Linked DNA regions of Homo sapiens. The protein of the gene in region 1 purifies or fractionates together with the protein of each later gene. This does not show direct contact. Each region holds a gene or a part of one and is shown on either strand. Other genes may lie near its edges.

Region 1 (5,681 bases):
TCCGCCAACCTCGGCCTCCCGAGGTGCCGGGATTGCAGATGGAGTCTCGTTCACTCAGTGCTCAATGGTGCCCAGGCTGGAGTGCAGTGGCGTGATCTCGGCTCACTACAACCTACACCTCCCAGCCGCCTGCCTTGGCCTCCCAAAGTGCCGAGATTGCAGCCTCTGCCCGGCCGCCACCCCGTCTGGGAAGTGAGGAGCGTCTCTGCCTGGCCGCCCATCGTCTGGGATGTGAGGAGCCCCTCTGCCCGGCTGCCCAGTCTGGAAAGTGAGGAGCGTCTCCGCCCGGCCGCCATCCCATCTAGGAAGTGAGGAGCGCCTCTTCCCAGCCGCCATCACATCTAGGAAGTGAGGAGCGTCTCTGCCCGGCCGCCCATCGTCTGAGATGTGGGGAGCGCCTCTGCCCCGCCGCCCCATCTGGGATGTGAGGAGCGCCTCTGCCCGGCCGAGACCCCGTCTGGGAGGTGAGGAGCGTCTCTGCCCGGCCGCCCCGTCTGAGAAGTGAGGAGACCCTCTGCCTGGCAACCACCCCGTCTGAGAAGTGAGGAGCCCCTCCGCCCGGCAGCTGCCCCGTCTGAGAAGTGAGGAGCCTCTCCGCCCAGCAGCCACCCCATCTGGGAAGTGAGGAGCGTCTCCGCCCGGCAGCCACCCCGTCCGGGAGGGAGGTGGGGGGGGCCAGCCCCCCGCCCGGCCAGCCGCCCCATCCGGGAGGGAGGTGGGGGGTCAGCCCCCCCGCCCGGCCAGCCGTGCCGTCCGGCCAGCCGTGCCGTCCGGGAGGGAGGTGGGGGGGTCAGCCCCCCGCCTGGCCAGCCGTGCCGTCCGGGAGGGAGGTGGGGGGGTCAGCCCCGCGCCCGGCCAGCCGCCCCGTCCGGGAGGTGAGGGGCGCCTCTGCCCGGCCGCCCCTACTGGGAAGTGAGGAGCCCCTCAGCCTGGCCAGCCACCCCGTCCGGGAGGGAGATGGGGGGGTCAGCCCCCCCACCCGGCCAGCCGCCCCATCCGGGAGGGAGGTGGGGGGGTCAGCCCCCCGCCTGGCCAGCCGCCCCGTCCGGGAGGGAGGTGGGGGGGTCAGCCCTCCCCCCGGCCAGCCGCCCCGTCTGGGAGGTGAGGGGCGCCTCTGCCCGGCCGCCCCTACTGGGAAGTGAGGAGCCCCTCTGCCCGGCCAGCCGCCCCATCCGGGAGGGAGGTGGGGGGGTCAGCCCCCCGCCCGGCCAGCCGCCCTGTCTGGGAGGGAGGTGGGGGGGTCAGCCCTCCGCCCGGCCAGCCGCCCCGTCTGGGAGGTGAGGGGTGCCTCTGCCCGGCCGCCCCTACTGGGAAGTGAGGAGCCCCTCTGCCCGGCCAGCCGCCCGGTCCGGGAGGGAGGTGGGGGGGTCGGACCCCGCCCGGCCAGCCGCCCCATCCGGGAGGGAGGTGGGGGGGTCGGCCCCCCGCCCGGCCAGCCGCCCCGTCCGGGAGGGAGGTGGGGGGGTCAGCCCCCCGCCCGGCCAGCCGCCCCGTCCGGGAGGGAGGTGGGGGGGGGGTCAGCCCCCCTGCCCGGCCAGCCACCCCGTCCGGGAGGTGAGGGGCGCCTCTGCCCGGCCGCCCCTACTGGGAAGTGAGGAGCCCCTCTGCCCGGCCAGCCGCCCCGTCCGGGAGGGAGGTGGGGGGGGTCAGCCCCCCCGCCCGGCCAGCCGCCCCGTCCGGGAGGTGAGGGGCGCCTCTGCCCGGCCGCCCCTACTGGGAAGTGAGGAGCCCCTCTGCCCAGCCAGCCGCCCCGTCCGGGAGGGAGGTGGGGGGTTCAGCCCCCCGCCCGGCCAGCCGCCCCGTCCGGGAGGGAGGTGGGGGGGGTCAGCCCCCCTGCCCGGCCAGCCGCCCCGTCCGGGAGGTGAGGGGCGCCTCTGCCCGGCCGCCCCTACTGGGAAGTGAGGAGCCCCTCTGCCCGGCCACCACCCCGTCTGGGAGGTGTGCCCAATAGCTCATTGAGAACGGGCCAGGATGACAATGGCGGCTTTGTGGAATAGAAAGGCGGGAAAGGTGGGGAAAAGATTGAGAGATCGGATGGTTGCCGTGTCTGTGTGGAAGGAAGTAGACATGGGAGACTTTTCATTTTGTTCTGCACTAAGAAAAATTCCTCTGCCTTGGGATCCTGTTGATCTGTGACCTTACCCCCAACCCTGTGCTCTCTGAAACATGTGCTGTGTCCACTCAGAGTTAAATGGATTAAGGGCGGTGCAAGATGTGCTTTGTTAAACAGATGCTTGAAGGCAGCATGCTCGTTAAGAGTCATCACCAATCCCTAATCTCAAGTAACCAGGGACACAAACACTGCGGAAGGCCGCAGGGTCCTCTGCCTAGGAAAACCAGAGACCTTTGTTCACTTGTTTATCTGCTGACCTTCCCTCCACTATTGTCCCATGACCCTGCCAAATCCCCCTCTGTGAGAAACACCCAAGAATTATCAATAAATAAATAAATAAATAAATAAATAAATAAATAAATAAAAAATAAATGTAAAACTAGCTGCAATATCAAATTATTACAATTTATGTACTGAGATCAAACAATTCATGATTTCCTTCAAGGGCAGGAACATAATATATTTTTGCCTCTGGGGAGGGGGGATGACCCTTTAAGAGAAGGAAGGATTCAGTACTTTCTTTGCTTGTGGGTTTCCTCTTGTTCACTTTTGATCTAGATATTGGTTATGTTCCAGTCCTCCTGCATATGCCCAAGAGGATTGGGAGTGGAATGGACACCAGCAGAAGCACCACAGTTATTCCTGTAGAGATTAGAAACAAGGAGCTTATTGCCCTGCTTGTCAAGGCTCAGGACAGACAGGAGGAAGAAACAAGTATAAAGGTTTTGGTTTTGGAAAGAAGTTGGAATCTCCAGACCCTGGGACCTTAAGATCCACAAAATTGCTGAAAGAAAAAGTACTACCTTATTGAAAGGTAAGATATTAAACTGTTTTAAGGTTTAAGCTATGTTAGCCACAGTAGCATATTTTCATAAACTATGAATTCAAGCAGTCACTTCTGCCAAACTGAAGTTTTTATGACATCGCCACCCATCCAGCCTTGCTGGTGAGATGGAGACCTATGTAGTGGAGAGATGCATATTGCAAGGAAAAACCTTCACAAAAGTTCACTCGTTTTTGAAATAATGTTTACTGAATGCCAGGCACTGTACTAGGCCTTGGAGTTACCCTACCTACTTTCCAGAACTTCTCATTCTAAGAAAAGAAAAAAACTGATGATTACAATGTGATAAGTGCTATAATAAATAGGTACCAAGTGTAATAAGAACGATCCAACTGTCTGGGGCAGTAATGTTTACATTCTAAAGGATTAATAGGACTCATGAGGTTCAAATTAGAGAGAAATAGACATTTGAAGACATAGGTATGAAAAGGAACATTGTGTTGGAATAACACACCAAATTCCAGAAATTGCTGTCTGAATGTTTGCTATGGGTAAAAGAGGGGAAACTGATAAGGGATGTTGCTAGGTAGGTAAGTTTGGACCAGTTGTGAAGGCCTGGTGGCATGCAAAGGAAATTTTAACTTTGGCCATGGGAAAGCACTGGAGATTAAAAAAAAAAAAAAAATTGTGTGGCTACCTTAGTTCAAGATGAGTACGAAAAAAATAAGAATGTACCTTAGCTTTCTACTTGAGTCCCAGAAGGATGGTCCTTCTTATTATGTCTTTTCTTTGCTAATATTCTTGGTATCCTCTTGTTCTTACTAGGTTGATTCTAAACTTTGTAGGTTACTAAAGAGCAGAATTTTGACTTAGGCTGTTGAGAACTCCTAAGTTTTACCTATTTGTGCTGCTCTTGATTCTAAAGTATATGCATGCCTCACTGATCATCATCAGTATGCATGAAAACTGATCATTTTCTTCATTTTGGAGAGAAAGCTTTAAGCCCTAGAATGGAGATAAAATAAGTTGAATAAATGCTGTAACGAGGAAGTGGCCAACTTTTTAGTCTAATCATGGCCAAAACAGGGTCATAAATTTGTGGTGACCCTAAAGAAAAGAAAACCATCCAAAGAGAAGTCAGACTTGACCCTGAGATGTCTTGCAGGAATTTGGTAGTTTGAGGACTCCATTAGGGGACCTTGAACAGATTGCACAGGCTCTGCTTGCAGTAGAGAGGCCAGACACAAGGTATAAATTTTGGAGTTGCTTGTGTTGGAGCATTAGTTGACCATTGTGTTAAAGGAATTCAGGACTTGGTAAAGTCAATAATCTAGAAACCAGTGAGAAAATGGTGACCCTGGTGAAAGATCTGAGTGAAATGTTTGAAGAGGGATGATATCTACGTTCTGTAGAACAGAGATAAGAGAACAAAAAGAGAAGATAGTCACTGGACACATGATGTCCGCTTACCAGATTTCAACGACACTCCAAGACCTTACTCCATATACTTCAACCAGGAGGAGTGCAGACAGCCGGGGCAAAGGGCTGCACAGAGACAATGAGGCTCATAGGAGTCTGATCTCCGTGTGGCATTTCGTTTAAAAGCTACATGTAATCTAGTTGTAGCAAGAAGAATTGTACTTGAAGAAATACGTTTCAAAAGGCATCTGTCATGATTGGGATGCCGAGTTAAAGTCAAGGATTTAAGGCGCCAAAACGGCATTTCTATAAAATTAGCCCAAAAAGCAGAGGGAGAATGGGAAAATTCTCAGATGATTTCTTGAGGTACTCAAAAGGAGACACATGAAGAGACACAGGCTTTAGTCTTCAGCGCTGTCTGTGTGATCCTTATATAGGTTTACCCTTTCTAGGTTAGGAGCTCTGGAATAGGATGATGACTTAAAGAAGGAGTCACGGATTGACAGTTGAGGCATATAGCAGCTGCCACAAGAAAATCCTTTTTGACTGAAGAGAACATACAAGGAGTGAATCTGAAAATAATACTAGCTTGAGCTCACACCTCGTTGTATAACTGAGAGTTTTCATATTGGCCCTCCATATAAATATATTCGTATCTAATTAAGCTAGCTACTAGTTTACATCGTTTCATATACTGGTGAGAGGTAAGAAATTGTTTGAATGTAATGAATATGGGAGAACTTACTGAGAATGATCTCACACAGATTCAAAATTTTTTTTTTTTTTTTGGAGACAGAGTCTCGCTCTGTCGCCCAGGCTGGAGTGCAGTGGTACAGTCTCGGCTCACTGCAACCTCCACCTCCCAGGTTCAAGTGATTCTCTTGCCTCAGCCTCCCGAGTAGCTGGGATTATAAGCACAAGCCACCACGACTGGCTAATTTTTGTATTTTCAGTAGAAATGGGATTTTGCCATGTTGGCCAGGCTGGTCTCGAACTCCTGACCTCAAGTTACCTGCCTGCCTTGGCCTCCCAAAGTGCTGGGATTACAGGAGTGAGCGCCTGTGCCCGGCCCAAAATTCTTAATAGAAAATACGTAATGATTTTAATGGATACAAGCAAGATTTAGTCATTAACAAATTTCTTACTTTAAATCTAAAAAACTACATGTTGGAGGACTCAGAAGGTGATCCTAAACAGACCCCAGAGAATCTGTCTGCAGTAGCAAGGCACTAAGTTTAGATTTTGAAATGCCTTTAGCTAGGAATCTGCAGTTAATAAATGTTGAATAATTCATTCCTCTAAGATAAAAAAAACTTTTTTTTTTGGAGACAGGGTTTTGCTGTCTTGCCCAGACTGGAGTGTGAT
Region 2 (3,500 bases), on another chromosome or scaffold:
GGATCCCCTGCCTCTGTGGTATGTCTGGACTGCCCTGGGCAGGCAGGGCCTGGCTCTGAGATGAAGATTTCTCAGCACTGAAGGACCGCCTGCCTTTGAGCTGTGAAACTAGTCTATCCTCACATAGACACCAGTAAACTGAGGCTTGAGAGGCTCAAGGACACCCCGGAGGCCACGAAGGGTAGAACTCACTCCCCTGCTTCCATCCCTGTCTTGCATTCACTGCTGTGGCTCGGAGAAGCAGAGGGGTCTTGCTTTGGAGTTGTGTGTGTGTGTGCATATGTACGTGTAAGGTGTGTACATGTGTTGCACACGTGTTCATTGCATCTGTGCATATGTGCACATGTATATGTGTGCGTGTGTGTGTATATGTGCATGCGTGGACATGTGTATGTGTTTGCATGTGTATGTGTGCACACATGCCTGTGTATGCACATGTGTGTATATGTGTGCATTTGTGCATATGTGCATGTGTGTTCATGTGTGCATGTGTATGTGCGTGTGGTGGTGATGATGGTTGAACAGTCCTGCAGCCCTGGTCCCATATGGCCTATTCCCAGCTTGGACTGGCTTCCTGGGGTGGACATGGACAGGAAAAGATGCCAGACTCATAGAGAACCCCTTCTTCCTCCACACCAGATTGGGCAGGGGGTGGGGAGGCTTTCACCTTAGCAATAGGCAATGGTTGAAATATCATTTCCAGGGTGACATGACATGATGTTTGGGATTTACTTCGAAAGAACAGGGGTGGAGCGGGAGATACAGATGAAACAAGACTGGCTCAGTTGATAATTGTTGAAGCTGGCTGTTGGGTACCAGGGGTTCCACTAAACTATTTTCTCTACTTCTGTGTATGTTTGAAATGTCCTGGAACAACAATAAAACACTTATGTCATCTCCAGTGATTCCCAAATTATTTCTTGTACAGAGGTGCTCTGCCACAAAAATGAAATAGTGACAATATCCAATATGAATATAAATATAAAATGCATATATCTATGTGTATGTATATGTATGTATATGCATTCATTGGCATATTCCAAGAAATCCTGCACAGAGCACCCCAGCTTTCCAATGCACCCTTCCTGCTCCCCAACCTGGTCCTGCCCCTTTGTGGGGCACCAAGGCCTCATGATGTCCCCAGAGAATCACAGGGTGCTATGACAGCTTTTCATACTCTGGGTTTCCACTCTGGCTGCTGTTCTTGAGCCACAGATGGAACCAATGGACAGCCCAAGGGTGCTCCCACCAGGTGACAACTCTGTCCATTCTCATCGCCCCAACCACAGGGAACCAGACTCATATTCCAGACACTCTCTCTCCCTTTCCTCCTCTGATGTCACTGTCACCATCTCCTCTCCAGTTAAAATTGGCTACAAGGCTGTACCTGGTCCCTGTGGACAGCTTCCTGATGAGCAAAGCATTCTTCATACTGCCTGGGAAGCCCCTGGGTCACCCTAGCTTGCCACGTTGTAGAGCTTGGGAAGCCTCTCAGCCTCTTAGATGATGTGGTCACTGGTGCTTTGGGCTCTGATGCTTACTGTTGGCCCCCAGCAAGTCACTTCCTGTTTCAGGGACTCCCTTTCCTCATCTGTCAAGTGGATTAGTATCTTACAGACGAAAAGCTAGTGGCCAGTGAGCACCAGGGACCATAATAGGGTTCGGTGCAACACATGCATTAACAGCCCCAAACTGGAAACAACTCAATGCCCACAACATGAGAATGGCTAACTTGACTCTGGAATGGTCACACCCGGGATTCTGTATAGCAATGAACATGAACAGGCTCACCATCCTCAACCACATGAATGAATCTGTTACTGGTTGAATCATGTGCGCTCCCAATTCATATGTTAAAGTCCTAACCCTCGGTCCTGAGAATGTGGCTATATGTGGAGACAGAGCCTTTAAAGGGGTGATTAAGTTAAAATGAGGTCATATGGGTGGGCCCTAATCCAAATTGACAGGTGTCCTTACAAGAAGAGATTAGGACACAGACATGCATGGAGGGACGGCCACGTGAGGACACAGAGAAGACGGCCATCGGCAAGCCAAGGAGAGAGCTCCCGGGAGGAGCCAACGCTGCTGACACTTTGGTCGTGGACTTCCAGCCTCCAGAGCTGTGAGATAATAAGCTTCTGTGGTGGAAGCCACCCAGTCTGTGCCACTTTGTTACGGCAGCCCAGGAAACTAACATAGAATCCCACAAACACTGCTGAGTGACAGAAGCAAGACACACAGAAACAAAAACAGTGATTCTATCTACATCAAGCTGAAAAAACAGACAAGACATGGTGGCGAAACCACAGAGAAGAGCAAGGAAGGATTTCCATCCAAGTCAGGACAGCAGGTAGCTCTTGAGGGTGGGGGTTGAATCAGGAAGGAGCCCAAGTGGGGGAGTGAGGGGGCTCCTGGTGGTCTGGGATGCTCTTTCTCTTGGCTGTCATTACACAGGGATTTGTTTATTATTACCCTATATGATTTAGAATTACACATTCATACTTCATGCAAGCTTTATATGTGTTTTATATTTTACACCAAAAAAATTAAGAAGGAAAGAAAGCCAAATGACAGAGAAAGAGAGAAAACCCCTGAGGGTGATGGCAGCTGTTTTGCTCAGTCAGTGGATTTGAACTCATGAGTGTCTAGACTGGCATGGGCTCCCCTCAATTACCACCCTCTTCTCTTACATCACGGCACAGGCCACTTCCTAACATATGCTACCTGCAGCCTCTGGCTGAGATGATCTTGAAGGATTCTTTGAGCTCCCCCTAATCCTTGATTCCAAAGAGGCTGGTGGTTAAGGGCTCAGGGTTCCCCCTTCCCTGGCCCCCACTGGCCTCGGTGTTCCTGCTGACTGGGCAGCAGGGCCAGTCTGGCGTGGGACCACCCCTGTCCACCCGGCTTCCTGTGCCCAGGTGGTTTCCAGCCGGGACAGGGAGGACTGTGTGGACAGCCCCCATGTCAACTCCCGGGCAGGGCCTGAATTGGGAGGGACACAAGCCCGGAAGCTGCTGGTTCTCCTGGCAGTCACCCCTTCCCCTCTCACTCCAGGGCCAGGCCTCTGGAGGCGCCTTCCCGGGAGGAGCAGGGCAAGGAAGGCAGGCAAAGCCACCAAGCCTACCTTTGTTGGTTTCACTCTCTCTGATAAGAAAGGAGCCGGCCTTGTTGATTGGAGCAAGAAGCTGCCTCTCAGCCTCCTTCCGACCCTGTGATCTAAAGAACCACCTGGAAAACGGCAGGAACAGGTGAAACTCAGAGCGACCCTGCTCCTCGGAGTATTCCCACACAGCCTCCCTCCTGCACTGCCTGTCCCCAAGAAATAAAAATCTAGCATTTCTGGTCCCAGTCGGCCCTGAGCTGCTGCTCCTCACACCGTGATGGAGTCAGTGCCCTCTGCCCCGCTGCCCTTCCAGTTCCGCTTCCTGTCAGCCCTGGACTCACTGTTTTCCTAGAACGAAACAAGAACACTAGTTGGTTGACCTTTGTTAATTTTGCTT

The links. The genes of interacting proteins can lie anywhere in the genome.
Region 2: the proteins of DNAJC25 (region 1) and BLK purify together in Homo sapiens (affinity purification with mass spectrometry, with the first as the bait; one large-scale study listed by BioGRID). This does not show direct contact.

Annotation. Positions count from the first base shown.
Region 1 is NC_000009.12:111,640,168-111,645,848, forward strand, and holds part of DNAJC25 (dnaJ homolog subfamily C member 25 precursor), read left to right. Parts: intron 1-2,689; exon of another isoform or gene 2,690-2,927; intron 2,928-5,681.
Region 2 is NC_000008.11:11,549,887-11,553,386, reverse strand, and holds part of BLK (tyrosine-protein kinase Blk), read right to left. Parts: intron 3,229-3,500; coding exon 3,125-3,228; intron 902-3,124; exon of another isoform or gene 1-901. UniProt on the Homo sapiens protein: Non-receptor tyrosine kinase involved in B-lymphocyte development, differentiation and signaling. B-cell receptor (BCR) signaling requires a tight regulation of several protein tyrosine kinases and phosphatases, and associated coreceptors.